3 linked regions of the Homo sapiens genome follow. The protein of the gene in region 1 interacts with the protein of each later gene in a pairwise test. Each region holds a gene or a part of one and is shown on either strand. Other genes may lie near its edges.

Region 1 (7,296 bases):
TGTCGCTCATCAGCGCGTAGGTCTCCTGCGCCAGGCCGGGCTCTCCGTGCTGCTGGGCAAAGGCCAGCACGTCCAGGCAACTGCCCAGGTCCAGCCGCCGCCGCAGGGCTGCCGCCGTGGCGGGCTCCAGGGCCCGGGAGCTGGGCTTCCGGGGCCCCTCCACCACCCCCCAACCCCCGGGCCTCTGCAGAAACACCATGAGCTTCCGGGCCTCCTCCTGCTTTTCCGTGAGCGCCCCGCTGCGGCCGGCAGGGCTGCCCCCCTCCCCCGGCGCCTCCCCTTGAGGGTCCCCCGAGGCGGCCGGCCTGACCTCCTGCTCCGAGCTCGGGGCGATTTCGCACCTGCTGCGTTTCCGTAGCTGGGGTACCGGCTGTGAGCGCCTCGCAGAGGAGGAGGCCGCGGGGCCAGGCGGCCTCTGCGCGGGGGGCTGTGCGGGGCCCCTGGGCATCGCGGCTTGGGGCAGCGGGTCTAGACTTTTCTCCCTGGTTCCCTCTCCTCTTAGGCCTGGGGGAGGGTCTGGGCTGGGCGATCCGTTGGTCTCGGAGCTTCTTGGCTGTGGCTGACCTCCAGCCTCAACCAGGCCCCCTGTACCTGTCCCTATGACTGTCCCCACTGAAGAAGAGGGGCCGTGTCTGTCCTCAGAGTGTGTGGAAGTGCTGGGACCCACGGGGCTCCCGGGAACCGCCCTCGGGACACTCCCTTGGGGCCTGTCTTGCCTGGGGAAGGGGTGGCTTCTAAGAACCATGGCAATAAGGTTTCCCCAGCTGGCTGAGACCTGCCCCTCCTGGTAGCGCCTGGGGAGAGCCACACTCTCCTGAGGCTTTGACCCGTCAGCTGGGGCAGGGGATGCGGCTGGGGTTGGGGTTGGGGCTGAGGTGGGGGCTGGGGCAGGGGATGCGGCTGGGGTTGGGGCTGGAGTTGGAGCTGGGCTTAGGGCTGGGGTTGGGACTGGGGTTAGGGCTGGGGATGCGGCTGGGGTTAGGGCTGGAGTTGGAGCTGGGCTTAGGGCTGGGGTTGGGACTGGGGTTAGGGCTGGGGATGGGGGTGTGAGGGTTGGGACTGGGACTGGGGCTGGGGCTGGAGTTGCGGCTGCAGCTGGACTTGGGGCTGGGGCTGGGGTTGAAGTTGGAGCTGAGGTTGGAGCTGGGGCTGGGGCTGAGGTGGGGGATGAGGTTGAGGTGGTGGCTGAGGTTGGTGCTGAGCTGGGGGATGAAGCCAGGGCTGGGGCTAGGACTGAGGCTGGAGCTGAAGTTAAGACTTGGGCTGAGGCTGAACTTGGGGCTGGCGCCGCTCTGAGATTTTCGCCCACGGAAGGATCCTGGGTAACCTCCAGGGGCAAAAAGTCTGAAGGAGAGGGGAGAGTCAGGGCTTCAGGTGGGAACCCCGGGCCGGGAGCTGCGGGCGGGGAGGCGGAGCGCGGGCGAGGCTCACGGCTCCGGGAGGGCGCGCGGCTGTGGCCGGCTGCAGCCGGCTTTGCTTGCTCCGGGGGCCGGGTGGGCCCCAGGTCAGCGGCAGGACTGTTATCTCGGGAGCTGTCAGCCCCGGCCTCGCCGGCATCGTAGGCCCCTGTGGCACCCGGCCCTTGGGACGAGAGTGGGCGACCTTGAGGCGGACTCTCTAGCCAGGGGCGCGTGGAGTCTGGGGCTGGGCCAAAGCTCCGGGTGCCCGGGACCTCCCTGCTGACCCAGGGCCAGCCTCCTCCGGGGGCAGGGACCCCCGAGGCCTCCCTGCTCCAGCCACCCTTGGCCCCAGAGCCTTCCGTCTGAGACCCAGGCTGCAGGGCGCGGGGAGCGGGCAGCGCCGGGAGTGCGGGCTCCTGGGCGAGTGGGGGTCCTGTGGGGAGGCCGCGCGCGTGGGCGTCCAGGGCGGCGGCCCCGTCCACCGCGTCCCACACGCTCCCCGCGGCGCCCAGGCGGAGCGGGTCCAGTTTCCGGGGGCGGCGGGCTCTGTCTCCCGAGCCAGCGTCCATCCGCCGCCGCCGGCCCCGGCCTCTCCCCATCGAGCCCGAGGGCCCCGCGCCCGCCTGCCAGGGGCCAGTGTCCTGTTGCCCCGCGGGGCCTGCGGCCTGGCGAGAGGACGCCCTGACACCACCTGTCTCCGCCTCCGCTTCGCTGCCAGGGCTCCGAGGAGTGAAGTGGATCAGGAGGGGGGCGGACATCCCCCCTGCTTCGCTCCTGCCCAGGAGGGCAGTGCCTGGCCTGGGAGGCTCCTTTCCTTCCGCTCGGGGGGCCGCGGGGGTGGCACTGCCCCGTTGCTGTCCTAATGCCTCTCTGCGGGCCTCCTCGACAGCCGTCTTGAGTGGAAGCCGGGCCATGGCGGCCAGGCCCCCGCCCGGCGCTGCAGCAGGGACAGGGCTCTGCTGGCCGCGTCCTGGGGGCTCTGGTTTCCCCTGCCCTGGGCTCTGCCCCTCGCTGCCATCACTGACCTTAGACTTCGGTTGCAGGGCCAGCTCAGCTCCTCCTGCCTGATGAGGTTGAGCCCCGAGGGCTGTGGACACCGGTTCTGCCGCCTCTTGATCGTGCCCGGAGCCAAACCAGTGTAAGGCCAGCGCTGTGGCAGCCACCACAGCCAGCGCCAGGAGGGCCAGCACAGCACTATCCCAGTCATTGTCACTGTCCCAGTCCCAGCCCCAGAGGGGACCATCTGGCTCCAAGGTGCCCTGGATCATGGTTCAGGGCTGCAATAGAGGCCTGATGGCAGGCTGGCAGTGCATGCAGAGCACAGAGGCCTGGGCTGAGGCACCGGCCAGCGCCTGCCCCAAGGGCTGCCCAGTTAAGGTGGACCAGTCCTCCAGGGCCTGGGAATGGTGGGGTCTCTGCTTGCACTCAGGCCTGGGGGTGTCAGTAGGGCCTGGCTGCAGATATCAGGAGACAGCGAGGCTTATGGCAGGATAGGAGCCCAGGGTCTCTGCAAGCACCCCACCAGCTCCTGCCCTCTTCTCCTCCTCGTAGGCCCCAGGGTCCTCAGGCAGCGTTCCTGAGCTCTGTGCTGTCATCACAGCCAACCTGCTTCTGCCTGGTAGACCCTCACACCCCTAAATTTATTCCACACCCCACAGTCCCTCCTCTCAGCCTGGGCCCAGCTTCAGGGGGCTTGGCAGGGAAGGGTTACCCACAGGGAGATGTTATCTCTAGCTCTAGCAATGTGATGTGGCCCTGATGAAATCACCAGAAACCGGAGAGGCTGATTCCACTGTGGGCCAGCAGGGGAGGGGTGGGGGCCGTGCACGGGAGGGTGCAGGCTGTGCCTGACGGTGGTCTCTCAGGCTGAAGAGGGAGACCCTGGACACGGGTCCTGGCAGTGAGCATTATCATTGCAGGGGTGCTGTGGAGGTTTGTACTGGGGCACAGGGAGGGGGCATAGAGAGGAGACTGAGGCTCCCATAGCTCCTCCTCCAGCAGCTTTTGGACTCCTTACTCTGGGTTTACCAGACATGGGATAGGGTTATCAAGTCAAGAGAAAAAAAAAATTAATGGGATAAATAAAATCCAAACATATTTCTCTCTTTATGGCCAGGCTTATTTCAGCCCACCTAGACCTTCTAGGATCTCCTGGACCCCCTGCGCCCATCGAGAGTGTCTTGACTGCCCAGATGAGACTCTCACTGTGCCCCTGGAGAACCCTGAGCCCAGCCTGCCCCCTACTCCAGTTACCGCATCAGCCAGCACCTGGATCCCTTAGAAACCACCCCCCTCTGGCCCCAGGTGCTCTAATAGCCAGACTCTGGGTGTCTTCATCTCAGTCCTCAGCCTTCCCTTATCTGAGCTGAGGACTCGCCCTCGAGACCACATCCTGGCTGGTACCTCCTAGCCCTGGCTCAGGCCGGCATGTAGGTACTTCTGTTGGATGTGAGCACTTGCTTCCTGAGGGAGAAGCCTGGGCTCCTCCACCTGCTCCTTGCTTAATCCCATCTCAGGAGTGTCTCGGGCCAGGTGCCAGGTGAGGCTCAGACAAGAAAAAGAGCCTGGAGTCCCTGGGACAAAGGCAGGGCTCCCTGGAAAGTACCGTGTGTATTTTTCCTTCCTCTGGGACACAGCAGGCCTGGGGATTTCTCCCTTACTCAAGCAGCAAGGAGATGGCCTAGGAGTGTCCCTGGCACCCAGCCTGAACCCTACTGAGCCTCAGGTAACTCACCTCCCAGCTCCCCCTGGGACTATTAGATGACAGGGAGAGGGTGAGGGTGGGCCCCATGCCTTAAGGTGGACCTCAAGTTGAGGGAAGGCTTTCTAGACCGTGCCCTTATTCTCTGTCCCAGTCTCAGGCTCTGCCTCTTGGTTAAGTTTGGGGTCCAGAAACCTTCAGAGGATGGAGATGACACCCATAAATATTAGAGACTGAGTAGGGGGCGGGAAGCGGTGGCGGCAGCGCACCCCCGGGGTGCAACTGCCCTGGAACTCCAAGTGGTGGCTTCAAAACTGGATTAAAATTTATTTCCGCGAAACCCTGGAGTCACGGTCCGGCGCCGACTGGCGTTTTCTGCCGTAGACTGAGAACGCGTCAGGGATGGCTCCGTTGGCAGCGCGCGCGAGCGCCCCCGGGCCGCGCCTGGAGGGTTGACAGCGACTCGCGGGCGAACTGTGAACCCGCAGCCCCTGGGCTCCGAGCGCAAACCTGGCGACTGGGAGGGCCCGGGGAGCGGGTGAGCCAGCGCCAGCCCCGCCGGCCCCAGGAGCGCGAATTTCTCTACATTTCCGGCTGTGGCCGCAGTTGGAGGATGGGATCAAAACGGGCAAAAAAGTGCGACCTGGGCCGAGGTGTCGGATCGCCTCGAGGTGGGAGGCCGAGGTGTTGGATCGCCTGAGGTCAGCAGTTCGAGACCAGCCTGGCCGACAGGGAGAAACCCTGTCTTTACCGAAAATAGAAAAATTAGCCGGGCGTGGTGGCGGGCGCCTGTAATCCCAGCTACTCCAGAGGCTGAGGCAGGAGAATCGCTTGAACCCGGGGAGTTGCAGTGAGCCGAGATCGCGCCACTGCACTCCAGCCTGGGTGACAGAGCCAGACTCCATCTCAAAAAAAAGAAAAAAAGACACCAGCAAAGGGTTTTTTTCTGTTAATAACTAGGTCCCCCCAACCCCCCAAAAAGGAGGATGGTTAAAAGCAGAAAAGGCAAAAAATAAAGGCTTTTGGCCGGGCGTGGTGGCTCACACCTGTAATCTCAGCACTTTGGGAGGCCGAGGCAGGCAGATCACCTGAGGTCAGGCGTTCAAGACCAGCCTGGCCAACATGGTGAAACCCCTGCTCTACTTTAAAAAAAAAAAAAAATTAGTGGGGCATGGTGCCGGACACCTGTAATACTAGCCACTCAGAAGGCTGAGGCAGGAGAATCGCTTGAACCCGGGAGGCGGAGGTTTCAGTGAGCCGAGATCGCACCGCCACACTCCAGCCTGGGCGACAGAGCGAGACTCTGTCTTAAAAAATAAAATAAATAAACTCTTTTATATTTCAAAATCTGAAGACAAATCACTGTAGTGCAGATAAAATAAAACGTTCATATCATTTTATTATTTTAACGTGTTTCATATTATTTTAACGTGTGACATTAAACAATTTCAGGGCCGGGCGCGGTGGCTCAAGCCTGTAATCCCAGCACTGTGGGAGGCCGAGACGGGCGGATCACGAGGTCAGGAGATCGAGACCATCCTGGCTAACACGGTGAAACCCCATCTCTACTAAGAATACAAAAAAATTAGCCGGGCGCGGTGGCGGGCACCTGTAGTCCCAGCTACTCGGGAGGCTGAGGCAGGAGAATGGCGTGAACGCGGGAGGCGGAGGTTTCAGTGAGCCGAGATCGCGCCACTGCACTCCAGCCTGGGCGACAGAGCGAGACTCTGTCTCAAAAAATAAAATAAATAAAATAAAGTCTGTTATATTTCAAAATCTGAAGACAAATCACTGTAGTTCAGACAAAACCTTCATACCATTTTATTATTTAACGTGTTTCATATTATTTTAACGTGTGACATGAAACAATTTCAGGAAATTGTATTAGGTATTGCGCTCGTGTCTTCTTAGGCGTCCTCATCCCTTTTCACCTCGGAGCTCAGCGTCTTCCTCAGCAGCACTTCCATGTCATCTGCCCCGTGAAATCAGCCTAACGCCGTTTCTCAATGACGTGGATCGCCCTAGGCCACCGCAACCTTCCGGAAGCTCTCTCAGCTCAGTTCCCATTCTCCCACCATCTCTTGGTTCTCCTTCTACCTCACCGGTTGCTAGTCCTCCGCTTCGCAGCTGAAAATGTGCCCGGGGCCTACTGTGGGCCTAGCCAGGCCTGCTTACGCAGTGCAGTTTCCCATGAATGATGCCCAGTCATTATCACATAACCTGTGGCAAGCCAGCAAGATGGCCCTGGTGACAGCAAAAGAAACTGCACTAGGACCTGAATGTAGATCTCAGTCATGTTCCTTACTAACAGCACGTTTTGCAACCATGCGTTAAAGAAACATCTGACTCACAACAAAATTTTAAAGGGTTTATTTGAGTGAAAAGCAATTTATGAATTGGGGAACACCTGACTGAAAGAGCGTTAGTATTCCAGAGACAAAACATCAAGTGCAAGTTTTTATTGGGAAAATGTAGAAGCACAATAAAGAAATTATTTGATTGGTTACAGTTATAGAGTTGCTTTCTTTGGCTTATCCTGTTGGAAAGTCAGTAGTTATATAATCATGATAGTTGGTTACTTATGATTGGGTAGATTAAAATTTATCTCTGTCTAATGGAAGCATTTATCAGAAACAACTCAGCCAGGCATGGTGGCTCACGCCTATAATCCCAGCACTTTGGGTGGGAGGCTGAGGTGGGCAGATCACCTGAGGTCAGGAGTTCAAGACCAGCCTGGTCAACATAGTGAAACCCCATCTTTACAAAAATACAAAAATTAGCTGGGCATGATGGCAAGTGCCTGTAATCCCAGCTACTCGGGAGGGTGAGGTGGGAGAATTGCTTGAACCCGGTAGGCAGAAGTTGCAGTGAGCCAAGATTGCGCCATTGCACTCCAGCCTGGGCAACAGAGAAGACTCTGTCTCAAAAAAGAAAAAAAAGAAATGACTCATGCCTGTAATCCCAGCACTTTGGGTGTGAGGCCGAGGCAGGGCAGATGACTAGTCTTTGAGACCAGCCTGGGCAACATAGCAAGACCTTGTCTCTACTGAAAAACAAACAAACAAAATAATGGCTCAAGTTAAGTTTCACTTATGTTTTCAATTTAAGCAAGGCTGAAGTCACTTACGAGACCTAACTTGTTTTGTCTGCTTAGGGATTCTTCAGGCCCGGTCTCCATTTTAGTTTACTTAAACA
Region 2 (7,027 bases), on another chromosome or scaffold:
ATTTTGTCATACCCACTTCTGTTTCATTACAATACCTCAATACCTCAACTCTCTTTCTGGAAAAATTTTAACATGACAAATTATTTTATAAGTATGTATTTCGAGATTTTGGTACTGATATAAATGTATCACAGGGGCAGAAAAATAGGATATCATGGAGCCCAATGTTTCTATCAACTAGGGCTTTGTATCACCATATCACAGAAGGACAAGAACATGGCTTTTAAGAGTTGAAGCTTAGTTCAAACCTTGATTCCATCATTTAACAACTGTGTGATCTTAGGTTAGTTAATTTCTCTGAGCTTGTTTCCTCAGCTGTAAAATGGGGACAGTAATGCCTAATTCATAGAATTACAGTAAAGATTAAATCGGTTAATATGTAAAATGCTGGCAGAGTATCAGGCCAACAGTAGGAGCTACACTTTCTTCCTTCCCACTGGGAAAATTATGAACAAAATAGTATTTTCTCTATTTTTTCAAACACCTTTTTATTGTGTACTACTTTTATACTTACAGAAAAGTTGCAAAAATAGTACAGAGAAATTTCTGTCTATCTCCTACTCTGCTTTTCCGAAGAGAAACATGTTACAGAACTATAGAATAATGATCAAAACCAGGAAATTATCACTGGTGGCCGGGCACGGTGGCTCACACCTGGAATCCCAGCACTTTGCGAGGCTGAGGCGGGTGGATCATCTGAGGTCGGGAGTTCGAGACCAGCCTGGCCAACCTGGTGAAACCCCATCTCTACTAAAAATACAAAAATTAGTCAGGCGTGGTGGCAGGCGCCTGTAATCCCGGCTACTCGGGAGGCTGAGACAGGAGAATCGCTTGAACCTGTGAAGCGGAGGTTGCAGTGAGCCAAGATCGCGCCACTGCACTCCAGCCTGGGTGACAGAGCGTGACTCCATCTCAAAAAAAAGAAAAAAAAGAAAAGAAAAACATTATCACTGATACTATACTATTAACATACAGACCTAATCAGAATCTTACCAATTCTTCCAATGTTCTTTTTCTACTGCAGGATCCTACTTTCTTTTTAACTAGCTTGGCTCTATGGAAAACATTTCTTGATTTACACCACTTTTTATTAACAGTTTTCAAATGAAATTTAATTCAAAATCAACTTTTTGTAAATAATAGTATGCCTATAATATACAACATGCCCTATGAATGGAATTACGTTGGTACTTAATTAAAACAGTCCTGAAAATACAAAAATTCAAAAATTCCTGAGCAAAACAAGAAATGTTCCACCACATTTCTATAAAACACAGTACAGGTATTATAATAAATTTTTATTTTTTTGAGACAGGCTCTCACTCTGTCGCCCACGCTGGCCTACAGTGGTGCAGTCACAGGTCACTACAGCCTTGACCTGGCTCAAGTGATCCTCCTGCCTCAGGCTCCTGAGCAGCTGGGACTACAGATGCCTGGCTAATTTTTGTATTTTTTTTTTTTGTAGAGGAGGGGTTTTGTTATGTTGTCCAGGCTAGTCTCTATCTCCTGGCTCAAGAGATCAGCCGGCCTCAGCCTCCTACAGTGCTGGGATTACAAGTGTGAGCCCCCATGCCCGGCCAATATTTAAATTCTTAAGTGCCATATATTCAAAAAATATTGGGGTTTAACTTGACTTTGTAATCATGTTGAATGAAAATAATTCATATTTGGTCCACAAATAACAATAAATTGGTATAGTTTGAACAGACCCCCTTCCTGGCAATAGTCCTTTAGTGTGGCAATGGTAATCTTAAAAGTAGTACTCCCTTCATAAGATCTGACTCATTTTATTATAAATAAGCACAGACCTTTGAAAATATATTTCTACTCCTGTTAATACAACGAGGCAAGATTATGCAGGTACTATTCTTATTAATGTATCTTTTATAATGCAGCTTTGGGAAGTCAATGCTAAGACAACATAGACTCTGAAAGAGAAGGAGATATAATAACATTTTAAAGAAACACCAAAACTCAAAAACCATAATGGAGTGAAGCTCTTTACTGGGGTGGCAGACAGCTCTTTATTTATATCCTGCCTTGGTAGAAAAACAAGAGTGTGGCACATAATTTAACCTTTCCCCAGTGACTCAGCATCACTATTATAAATATCAGACAATTTGCTGTGACACTGACTCATTGTCAAAAGGTTAATTATGTCCCAGGTGCTTCATTCGAGAAGCAAGAAAGGTGTATAACAAAAGAGTTTAATCAGAAATGTTTCAAATACAGCAGACTTCTGAATTTAACAGAAATGCTTCAGTTGATCTGAAAAATTAAGTTATGAAGCGAATATTTTCTCCAAAGAGACCAGAGACATTGGGTGTACTTATAATAACGAATTTGATCCATGACTTAAATCAGGTGGGAACTTGACTTTGGCATCTTTGCTTCTTTATCTATTCAAATCTAAATGTGTATGAAGACAGAGCTCTTCAAGGTCAACAACCACATCTGATTAATCTTTGTATCTCTCTTCCTGATCTTCCTTTGATCCTGGTACAAAGTACTATAATGCTCAAGAAATGTTACTGAACAAATGGAAAGAGGAGGACAAAGAACTCTATTTTCTCAAGAGACTAAGGCTTTACACAGAAAAAATAATAATATAGCCAAGAGAGTAAAATAAAAGTAAACCCATGGTTATTGTCACTCTGAGGGGTTAGGCTATGAACCAATTTTTCTTGATGTTATTCTATCTGGACTCCCAAGTGGAAGCTTATAGATAACCAGCCTTGATAACCGTCACTGGGAGGTGGGAGGTGGGGTCCTGTAATCTAATGCAGACTAGTCCAGATTATTTTTGGCTCCATTTAACAGCTCGTAAAATAATTTTCTGTCTTTTACCAGTTCTAAGAGTCTTTCCCACTGAAATGTACATCTCAGGGGAATGAGACAGAAGGCTCCTTCCCTAAGGAGCTGTGTCATCTTTCCCTTGGACTTGGGTCATTTATTCAGCAAACTGATGAACAGACAAGATACAAGGGTGGTGAGAAGCAGAATGGAGAAGAATCTTATTTTGTTCTTAAGTTTCAGAATTTCCTAGAGAAGTGGAAATTAACTGCAAAACACCAAAACAACCAAATATATTTTTATTTAAATGGACTCTTTTTTTCCATATCATCCCTCCTGACAGCCTCCACCACAAGCCTTTGAGTGGGTTTCCCAAAGTGCCTTTCATGGGACAGCAGTCCTTGTGAGTAACATCTGAATAATGTCAACCTACCTGTAGTCTACAGCAATACTGTGCAGCAGGCAACAGGTCTCTTATTTCAAAACGGGTGTCTGTCCCATGATAAATGAGTTCTAAGGATTCTTCATCTTCTCCCCATTCCAACCTGTACTCTGAGATGTCAGCACCAGAACTATCAGGACTCTGGAAAGGCAGAAATGGAAGTAGTTAATAATGCCACTGAGAAGAGAATCCTACTGTGCTTGTATTCAATTAACTAAAATGGGAAAGAGAGCAACATGCCCCAGAATATTTCAAATACATATAAAAGAAAGGCACGATCACAAATATATATACCTACTATGTACCCACAAAATTTTTTTTGAGATTTAGAAATTTAAAAATAAAATAGGGCCAGGTGCGGCGGCTCATGCCTGTAATCCCAGCACTTTGGGAGGCTGAGGTGGGTGGATTGCCTAAGATAAGGAGTTCGAGACCAGCCTGGCCAACACAGTGAAACCCTATCTCTACTAAAAGTACAAAAACTAGCCAGGCATGGTGGTGGGCACCTGTAATCCCAGCTACTCAGGAGGCTGAGGCAGGAGAATCACTTGAACCAGGGAGGCAGAGGTTGCAGTGAGCCGAGATTGTGCCACTGCCCTCCAGCCTGGGTGACAAGATTGAAACTCTGTCACACAAAAAAATAAAATAAGTAAAATAAAATAAAATTTTTTACAAAAAGAAAGGCATGAGAAACCATTTCCTCTCAGTTTTGACTACAGTAAAACTTCCACAACCCTAAATAATATAAGCAAGTGGCAAGTGCCAAGGGTGATTACTATAGTACACAGAGCAAAAAAAAAAAAAAAATCATCTATATGTGCATTTTGGATTTGCAGCTTCCTTATAATTGGTATTTGTATTTGGGAGTAAAGTAGAAGAAACAGAAGTTGATGCAGAATATGCCTGACTTACCTCCCAACCCACTAAGACACATCCATCAGGTGTACAAGAAATACAAGGTGCTTTGCATTGTCCAGGAGGCCCTGCAGCAGTGGTAATTTCTGAGACATCAGAATAGGGACCATACTGAAAGAAAACACACGCACACACACGTATGTATATATGCGTGTATGTGTTTGTGAATGTGTGTGCATACAAAAGCTTATAACCAAATAAAAGCTAGGCTAACATCATCATCAACACAACTAATTAACAAATATTACCCAATGATTTTCACTTTCAATTCAATGTGTGTAAGTTTTTCTCCTATATACAGTCCCTGAGTAGTAGATGTCTGTCATTTTTTTAATTGTAAAATAATTAGTTGGTTGACAAAATATTTTCCCTTTCTTGGGACATGAAATAAAAATATGCTGATTTTTGACAAAACAGGGCAATCTGCTTTCATATTTCTCAGAGGACATCCAAGAAAACTAAGTCAGATGCCCACTGCAGTTTAATTTTTAATGAATAAAAATATACTTGGAATTGTTGGTGATCAAATTCTAGGTATTTCTTCTAGTTACCGGTATTTTCCATTTTGAAAATAAATGCTTCTGTAATGTTTTCTCAGTGTGTTCCCATCACCTCACCTATTCAAGGGTATCCACGGCAATCCTGATGTTACCATCAGTGACCACACTGCTCAGAGCCAGGAATTGCTAGAGACTTACCACACTTTGAGAGAGTCACAGCCACCTGAACCACCCATTTTAATGGTGGCATATTTGATACTTCAAAGGTTTGGAGCAGAGTAAAAACTTGCCAGGCTAACAAAATATATGACTGTCCTTGTCAAAATGAGAGAAAAAAGACGGCGGGGAGGGGGGAAACAAAAAACCACCTCTCAACATAACATGCAAAGATGCTGGGGAGTTGGGGAAGCTCTCTGAAATGGACCTCAGAAGGTGACTACAGCGATATATATGGTTAATTTCTAATACAACAGGAATAAACCCAAGCTGAAGATAGTTTCTTTATAGGATAAATCAGTGAAAGGGCTGAGAAAAGTACAGCTCACACCAGCCCAGTTGCACATTTATCTTTGTTGTGGCAGATAGTAACTGAAAAGTTGATGAGAGAATGGGGTAGACACAACAGTGTGCTCATCACTATCCATCTTCTTTTCGCTTACATGATTATAAGTTCAGGTACATAGGCGTTAATGTTCAGACTTTTTTGTTTTCACTTAAGTATCATTGTTGTGTCTGAAATTCTTTTCTATTGGAGAATTAGGAGAAATCCAGTTTTGGGCACTCTGCCTAAGGAATAGCCCTTCTTTTATTCCTTTACTTTCTTAATAAACTTGCTTTCACTTAAAACAAAAAGTCACTGCAAGTTGGGCTGTCTTATTTTTTTAAAAAATCATCAATTAATTAATTCTATTTATTTGCATGGAGCCCATCTACACAAACCACTGGCACTTTGGACGGGGCATTTAGCTGGCTTTACCCACACGCTTCTGCCCTTTTATGCTTCATCAATCTCTGAGCCCACCCAAAAGCCTCACAGTTACTGGGACTCCCACTGCTCATTATTCATCTCCCCCTAAATCCACATCATTTGGCAATTTCAAAGAAAAAAAGGACAACAACCTTTATGGATATAACATAGACATATATATTCTCAATTTTTGATAGCTCAACTTGACAACTCCAAATGGAGCAATAGAAGGAGAGAGTCCTGTAGTTTTCACGTGAAACAAAACAAAAACAAGCTGGTGTCCCTGGCCACTACCCTTCTCTAGTTGTAAAAACTGACCTAAGATGTTGCTGGTTCATTTAGACAAGACAGTATAAAACTTTTATTAGAACTATTATCTAATCCTAATTTCCCTGAACTGATAAAGTCAATAGAATAGGAAATTTTCCAAAAACTGTCGAAAATATCTACAGGGTGATATCCTTATTAACCTTGAGTGCTGTCTTCATAGAATGATATGAGGACAAAAGAAACAGAAAACTTCTAATGCTGGGTCTATATGAAATCACAACAATATCAACTCAGAATTAAGATTTACAGACACTGCATTAATGGTTGTCAAGGTTGCATCAAGACTGTCAAAAATTTCAGGAGGCTAGAGACAGAAGTGCTAGCACTTTGGGTTCTGATTATGCATTCTGATTCTGGTTATGGTGTATGGGCTTATACTCACCCCTCCATCATTCAGAGCCCTCACCCGGAAGCGATACACGGTTCCAGGAAGCAGGTTGCCGACGGTGCACTCCAGCTCTGGGCCATGGTACACTTCCGAGGCTACGTCTTCGGGCTCCGTCATCTCCACGCTGTACTCTGAGACCTCACAGCCACTTTCCGATGCAGGAACATCTGGGAATGAAGAATTTTTTTCATCTTAGAACACTTTGTGCTTCCAGTTGACCAAAGTGCACCAGATTTCACACAAGTTGAGCAAAATATCACATAGGTGGCCGGCCTCAGTATCTCCCTTACAAAAGAATCCATGCCCACCAAAAAAGAGATATAAAAATAAAAGTTTCTGAATGATGTTATCCATACTCTCCAAAGCGGGTCCACTGAAGTTTATTTAATTACATTGATAAAATAATCCCAAAATTATAGGAACATTAGATATATTTCTTCATATTCTAATGCTAGGTAAATGGAAGAAAAAGAGGGAAGAAAAATCTCTTTAATTGGAAACCAAAGGTCATGCTAAATCAAAATACAGGACCCCAAATTGGCACAATTTATTATACTTTAGACATAAGTGGTAGGAAAAAATAGTCTGCTAGAGAGTTCTGTACATTTGTACTTGTAATTATACATGTTGTAAACTGCTGGACACAACAGGAAACGCTAATACAGCTTAAATCAATGCTGTAAAAACATCAG
Region 3 (7,027 bases), on another chromosome or scaffold:
TGATACTTACTGAAACAAAAAGGAAGGAAAGTTAGAGGATTTCCTGGCAGATTTAAAATAAATGGGTTAGATAATGCAAAGCTAATCCCAAGTTAATATAAGCATCTCTGATTGCTAGATGGTGGGGTGGATACTGCAACAATATCAAAGAAATGAGAGCAAATCTGCACTTCTCTCTTTAAAATGACTTTTCAGTCAATTTGCTGAAAGGAAGAAGTATCATAAATGATATTCTGTATATCTGATTTACTTTTTTATGATATTAGGTAGGAGAAAAATGAGTCTGAGATGATGAAAATCAAGCAATATGAACAAGTCAAAAAATTTTAAAGTAGAAAAGGTCATTTCATGCTGGCATGATTATTGGAAAAGGTAGGAGTTCTAGGGAAAAATAGGTGTGGACTAATGAGCTGAATAAACAATGGGGCCTGGATTTGTTTTAACCACATCTACAACATATCATATCTATTTCTAGGAAGTCCCCATGGGCTGCAGGGGACAGGAAGATCCTGATCTGTGACAAATCGACTGGATGGAATTTTCAGGCTGAAGAGAGGTTGAAACCACAAAATCTTGGACAGTCTTTCATGAGCTCAGGCCTGCAATCATGCCCCACACAGTGAGCCATGGTGAATGCATTTTGAAAAGCAACCTCCTCCCTTCCCTTTTCCTCTTTGTGACTTTGTGTATCACAAAAGCAGCTGTGAGCCAGAGGTAAGACTCTGGAGTTTACTTGGCTTCCCTTGATTATTACTGACTGCCCAGGTCTGCTCCATCCCTCCCAAATCTTGCCAGCTACAAGATCTCTCTTCACCCTGGCAGGATTTGTAAACATACTCCCCAAACACTCAGGAAGACTGGAAGAACAACTTTTGGGGCAGTGGCTCTCCAGCTTTCTGTTAAACAAAAGGCTCTTTAACATTTGATTTCATTTCAGAATAACGTTCTTACTTCATGATTCTATAATTGGTATAAGCTATACAGTCTCTGGAAAGGCATTTCTTTAGGAAACATATTATTTATGATCATTGGGGACCGAGTTAGAGGTTTATTTCTTTTTTTTTTTTAATAGAGTTTTGTGTGTCTTATTCTTAAATTTAAAAAAGCATCTTCAGAAGGTGCCATATCCATCCCCTCGGGCAGTCACTGCAAAAGTTGGGTAGACCTCATAGGTTGTATATGCTGCTAAGTCTTGTCCAAGGGTTACCGCTTGCTTGAGCTGGGCTGCAGACACGGGTGCAGTTGCATTAGGGACAGCATATCCTGGAGGAAGAGGCAGAGAAAACTTGATGAAAGGAATTCACATTTGCTCCCTTTTGGCTTATTTGTCTTCTTTTAGAAATACGAACATTTAACATATTGCTTAAAGCTAAAAGTTAATATATATGTTTTAAAAAGTGTCCTTAAGGACACAATATGTGGACTCAGTGATTTTCAATGATATTTAAACAGTCCTAGGACAATGTTCCCTAAAGTGGGGTCAACCACCTGTGTCAGAATCACTTTATACTTAAGAGAATTAAAGATGCTTGGGATAGGGTCCAAGAAAGAGAAACTTAACAGGATACTGAGTTGATTAAAGCTTGTGATTTTTAGCGTTTTGAGGGTCTCCAAATTTATAAATGAGAAAAGGTGACTGAGGGGCTGGCTGGGCATGGTATGTGGGGAGGTGGGGATCTGTGGGACTGGTTCTCCTGTAACCCCACACCTGCCTAAATGAAACATTTAAAACATTTGCCTTTACCCAAGAAGATGTGTAAAGACTGGGAGATCAGTAGGAGAAATACTGTAAAGGTTAAGTGTGCTTTTCCATAATACCTTAAAAGCAAATGCCTAACCTGTCCATATTTACATGTAACTATGAATGGCAAAAGCACCTTCTTACCTCCCAAGCCCCTCATCAAGCCTGTGCTTGTTGTATTCAGAGGCCTTGATGCTGGTTCTCCGCCTCAGAGAACCAAAGTATCTGAGAATTAAAAAAATAATCTATGCGCTTTCATGTTAGCATTGTGTCTAGTGGATGAGCATTCACTTTTGAAGAAGAGAGCATATTAGCTACTATCTAAAGCATTATTTCTCTGTATTGTTTTAGTTTAAAACCTGAGTATTTCTGAGATTATCCAGAAATTGTAAAAGATAGCAAGAAAAAGAGAGAAGTATACTTAAGTACAAATGGGCACCTATTTTTCATTGTTGTTTTAAACCCCATTTAGTTTATGTGCAGTAGAAGCCTGCCCAACCCCAGACACATTGATTTTTTTCTAGTGGCTTCTCAGAAAGTGGTGGCAGGAAGCTGGTTGGATTATTTTGAACAAAAATTGAATCCACTCTTGGTGCATTCATTTTGGTCAGTAATGCTGATTAATGCACTAGTGAAGTTTGGTCCATTTTCCAAGGATAGGAGACATGTGTTAACAGTTACTTTCATGGTTTTGGAAACAGTATTTCTAAACTAAGTGAGTAATGTAACTGTGTGAGTGTGTGCACACATGCATGCATGTGTTTGTGGCACAGATTTTACCTTTAGGGATTTTGAATTTTCTTTTTCAACTTGGTCAATTTGTTAAGTGCCAGGGTGTTTGGGTTTCAAACTGATTCTTCCCTTGGAGCCTATTATTCTTTGCTTGACTCCACAGCAAAGTTATAAGAGAGGCTCTCAGATTCTTAGGCATTCCCAAGACAACACTCATGCCCTAAATATTTTTAACTTCTCACAGAAGCCAGTGGAAGTGAGAATAAGATAAAACATTCTTGGGTAAAAGCAAATCCTTTCCAATGTGAAAGCAAACTTTAAAATTCTGACAGTGGCTCATTAGTTTAATAGTACATTTGTTAGGTGTCTTTGGGGTGCAGCTTTCTGTAAGACAGGGGCTCAACTTTCTCTAGGAACTGAGAAGCCCTGGCAGGCATCCTGAGTAAATGGACATGTAAACACCCTGTTATGTGGAAAGCAAGCACTGGCTGCTGGCCCCACACTGCCCAGGAAGGACCTTGCCCTCTGCAATGTCAGCTGTTACCTTGGTAACCTCCGAGGGACTCACCACAGAGCATCTCCATGTTCTTACAGAGAAACAAAGCCAGAATTGAGGTCACTTTCAGATGTGAAACATCATTAATGTTAGCCCCACTGGCCAGAATGGAGGATATATTCAAAACTTTTGAGAAAAAAAACCCCAAAACCAAAAAACACTACTGAGAAGGAGCCCCAGGTGCAGTGGGTGTGAGGAATATAAAATTTTTCACACCTACGCATGGCCAATATATGAATTAATTAATCAATAAGAATATCATGTTTCTAGGTCTACTTAGAGCTCTAATTTGGACTTATGTGGCACACGCTGACACAATGAGAAGTAAAAAATGACAGATTTCTTTAATAAAAATAATCTTTTACTAAAAAAAAAAAGGATAAAAAATTTTCAGCTGAGAAAAAATTTCCTAAACAACTTTCTTGCCTGGTCCCCTTCAATCTCTAAAGGATTCAGTTTTAATTATTACCATTTGTTGTGGGTACATAACAAATGGGGACAAATCTTTTAAAATGTGACCTCTGAAGGCATTGTTGATCCACGGATAGGCTTTGCTTTAAGCAATCAGCATATGCCCCAGACCAAAATTATAGAACAAATAAATTGAGTTGAGTCCTGATTATTCACATATTGAAAGGATCTCTGTCTGTCTCTCACTCTCACAAAATTTTTGACTTTAAAAAATCTTTTTTGAAATCAAATTAATAAAAGTAGATTGAAGACTGGAGAGGGAGAAAAGATTGCTGAAAAGCTAATTGCCAGTGGCCAAATTACTTAATCTTTCTGTATATGGGCTCTTCATTTGTATACCAGACTTTCTGATGGAACCTAACTCTTGGTGGTATCATGAGTATTACTAAGATATTATAACGCTTCCTGACCATTTAAGTGAGTGCCTAGCACACAGTAAGATCTCCAATAAACATCATATATCTATAGGTAGTTTCAAACTCTCGTACTAAAAGTAAAAACCAAAACAAACCAGACTCAGAGAGACTGACTCATTCAAGATCACACAGCAGTTTAAAGCTGAGCCGAGACCAGAACCCACTCTGCTGCCCAGCTTGATTTTCTTGCCTCGTGTTTTAATGAGTCACTCATTTGGGAAACTCTTTTTGGTCCCAAGGTTGTGCAAGTCAGATTGCTGTAAGTAGGGTACACAAACATTTCTGTGATTCAATGGTACCAAAAAAGGGTTTCCCAAATACTCTCTGCAGGGCGCCATTTCTGGCACAATTTTCCCATACCTGGGAAAGCAGTAGCAGCAGCAGCAGCAGTAGCCATGGTGCCATCGCCTCCATCAGTGGGGATGCCCAGGGTCTGCAGGGTGTATTCGGCTGCATACGTCTTTGCTTCATCCACAAAGGCACTCAGCTTTGGAGGTGTGAAAGGGTGGCTGGAAAGCAAGTCAGTCAGGGTAGGCATTTTTAAACTGGTACAACTGAGTCAGGTGAAAACTTAAGGCACTATCAGCTTTGTAAGATGACTGGATGGTGGTATTTTGAGTGGGTGTTTTTCATTCTGTTTGCTATTAAAGCTTCTAAATATAGGTTGCATGTAGAAATATTTACAAATTGATCTAGAACATCAGTGGTTGATGACATTCCTGGGACATACAAGTAATTCACTACATGGCTTTTCTAAAGCACAAGTGAAACAAATTGTTCCTAAAATATATAGAAATGCAGGCTCAAGGTAAAATTCAGGAGGTGATATCCACTAACAGAGAGGTCATATCTTTGGTCCAAAATTAAATGATGGGCCATTGTCTTATTATGTATAAAATGGTAGTTTCATATGCTTCAACCTAAACACTGCACAGATGAAAGAATGGGCTATAGCTTTGTTTGTTTGAAATGGAGTCTCACTCTATTGCCCAGGTTGGAGTGCAGTGGTACAATCTAAGCAAACTCCACCTCTCAGGTTCAAGTGATTCTCCTGCCTCAGCCTGCTGAGTAACTATGACTACAGGCGCCTGCTGAGTAACTATGACTACAGGCGCCTGCCTGTACCGGCTACTACATCCGGCTAATTTTTGTATTTTTAGTAGAGACGGGGTTTCACCATGTTGGCCAGGTTGGTCTCAAACTCCCGACCTCAAGTGATCCAGCCAAGAATGGGCTATAGTTTTTATTTCTATTACATTTTACACTACTGACTGTTATCCACTGGCTGGTGATACTACACAACCTTCATTGTGTATATGAAATTTGGGGGCCTTTATATGCTGGTTTCATGGCTGGCACATCCCAACTACACATCTCAATATTTGCATTGAATGACAAATGAGTAGGTAGTAGACCTCAGTATCTTGTTTAGATGGTGACTAAATGCATTTAATTTATAAGTGTATCCTGCTCTAAAATGGTAAGGAATTTGGAGAAGTTACGCACATTGCAGGATTCTGGCTGGCTAGAGCAGGAATAGTTATTTTGTACAAGAATAGCTGTCTTTGGTCTTGTCCAATAGCAGAGTGCAGCTGGTACACTGGCTGTCCCCAGTTATTTTTCTGACAAATCTCTTCTAATATCTACAAGAATAAAAAAAGTTATTTCCCCCTCAAATGACACATTCACATTATTTCCCAAGTTTTCAGGTTTTTAAACTCTAATTTTCAGAGTTCAAGCTAGTATCTGAAGACATAAAATGCCACATGATTTAATGACTCATAAAATTTAAGATGAACTCAATTTGAACTCCATTTAAAATGTTAGGTCTATTAGTTCATAAAATCACTTTCACACCATTTACTGTAATATGTTTTTAGTTTAGTCTATTAGCTGTAACTTTTTACCAAAAGCTTAATTTTATGATTTGTTTGGAATATTTGTTTTTGTAAAAATTGTTGCTCCAACACTGTGTGTATAGATTTGTATAGATTTACTCATTATTACTCTCAATCTCTGTGTTTATAATGGTTTAGAGATGATAGCCTAAGAATATATTTTTATTTCGTGACATTTGTCATAGGGTTTTAATCTCACAATTTCATAAAAATAGAATTAAAAAGTTTAATGCTTGGTATTTATCGAGTGTTCCTAGATGGGTGTTGACAGTTGCAATGTTTTTATTTGTTTGGTAAGACACTATTTCTGCCTTTTTTGTTTGTTTGTTTGTTTTTTTGCTTAATGACAATATGCTTTTTAGCATCCTCCTGCATGTTTTTTCTTCTGTAATTACTCCAAACTGAATATTTTCTAAAGATTCATAGTTTCTTTATTCTGAAGCCATTTTTGGTTGTCCAGAGGTCCTGATGCTCTCGTTAGTCAGCAGATTCAGTAGACTGTGGAAAGCAGGGCATAAGCCTGAGAAAATAACTCTGTAAGACAGAACAATGTCTCAGGATGTGTCTCTGAGGTTTCTTACCTCATTTATGCTAACTAACCCAGCTGCAATAGCATGATATTTTCCAGTTTATTAATTTGTAGATTGTTACTGTTTTTTCTATTGATATTTTCTTTTTAATACTCTTGTTGTGTAGGATCTCTTGTAATCCTCAGAGCATTCTCTACAGTTCTTGGGCAATAATAAAGGAGCTTTTGCTGGTAGATATTATGCCTGCTTGTTTATGCCAGGTGAGCAAACCTGGGCGGAAGGAACACCAGCTCTCACTGCTGACTTTGCAGGAAAGGGCTTGTCTCTCTGCTTCTGGCTGGAAGTTCACAACTCTACTTTGGGATTGTTTAGGCCCCATCTGTGTTGGTTGGTGGTGGCATGGTCTTCATTTCTAAGCCATAGTTGTAGAAGGTCAGACACAAATTAAAGAACTTTTATTAATTGATAGAGATTGTTACTCACATACTAATAAAAGACATGATGAATTTCTAACTTGAGTTTAATGTAAAATGAAGAGATCTCTTTTCATACTATTGCAGCTCTCGGAACTATTATTATACAGAATTTGCGACTATTATTTTTTATTTTCTTAAAATATTTCTAAGTATTCCAGTACTTTAATCAGGTTTTTTGTTTTGGGTTTTAACCTAAGAGAAACTGGA

The links.
Region 2: the proteins of KLHDC7B (region 1) and FNDC3B interact in binary tests that used the Homo sapiens proteins (3 or more experiments, as listed by UniProt).
Region 3: the proteins of KLHDC7B (region 1) and A1CF interact in binary tests that used the Homo sapiens proteins (3 or more experiments, as listed by UniProt).

The regions. Positions count from the first base shown.
Region 1 is NC_000022.11:50,541,616-50,548,911, reverse strand, and holds the start of KLHDC7B (kelch domain-containing protein 7B), read right to left. Parts: upstream 3,014-7,296; 5' UTR 2,669-3,013; coding exon 1-2,668.
Region 2 is NC_000003.12:172,343,561-172,350,587, reverse strand, and holds part of FNDC3B (fibronectin type III domain-containing protein 3B), read right to left. Parts: intron 6,503-7,027; coding exon 6,330-6,502; intron 4,262-6,329; coding exon 4,148-4,261; intron 3,377-4,147; coding exon 3,227-3,376; intron 1-3,226. UniProt on the Homo sapiens protein: May be a positive regulator of adipogenesis.
Region 3 is NC_000010.11:50,805,618-50,812,644, forward strand, and holds part of A1CF (APOBEC1 complementation factor), read right to left. Parts: intron 5,560-7,027; coding exon 5,423-5,559; intron 4,426-5,422; coding exon 4,277-4,425; intron 1,264-4,276; coding exon 1,112-1,263; 3' UTR 1-1,111. UniProt on the Homo sapiens protein: Essential component of the apolipoprotein B mRNA editing enzyme complex which is responsible for the postranscriptional editing of a CAA codon for Gln to a UAA codon for stop in APOB mRNA.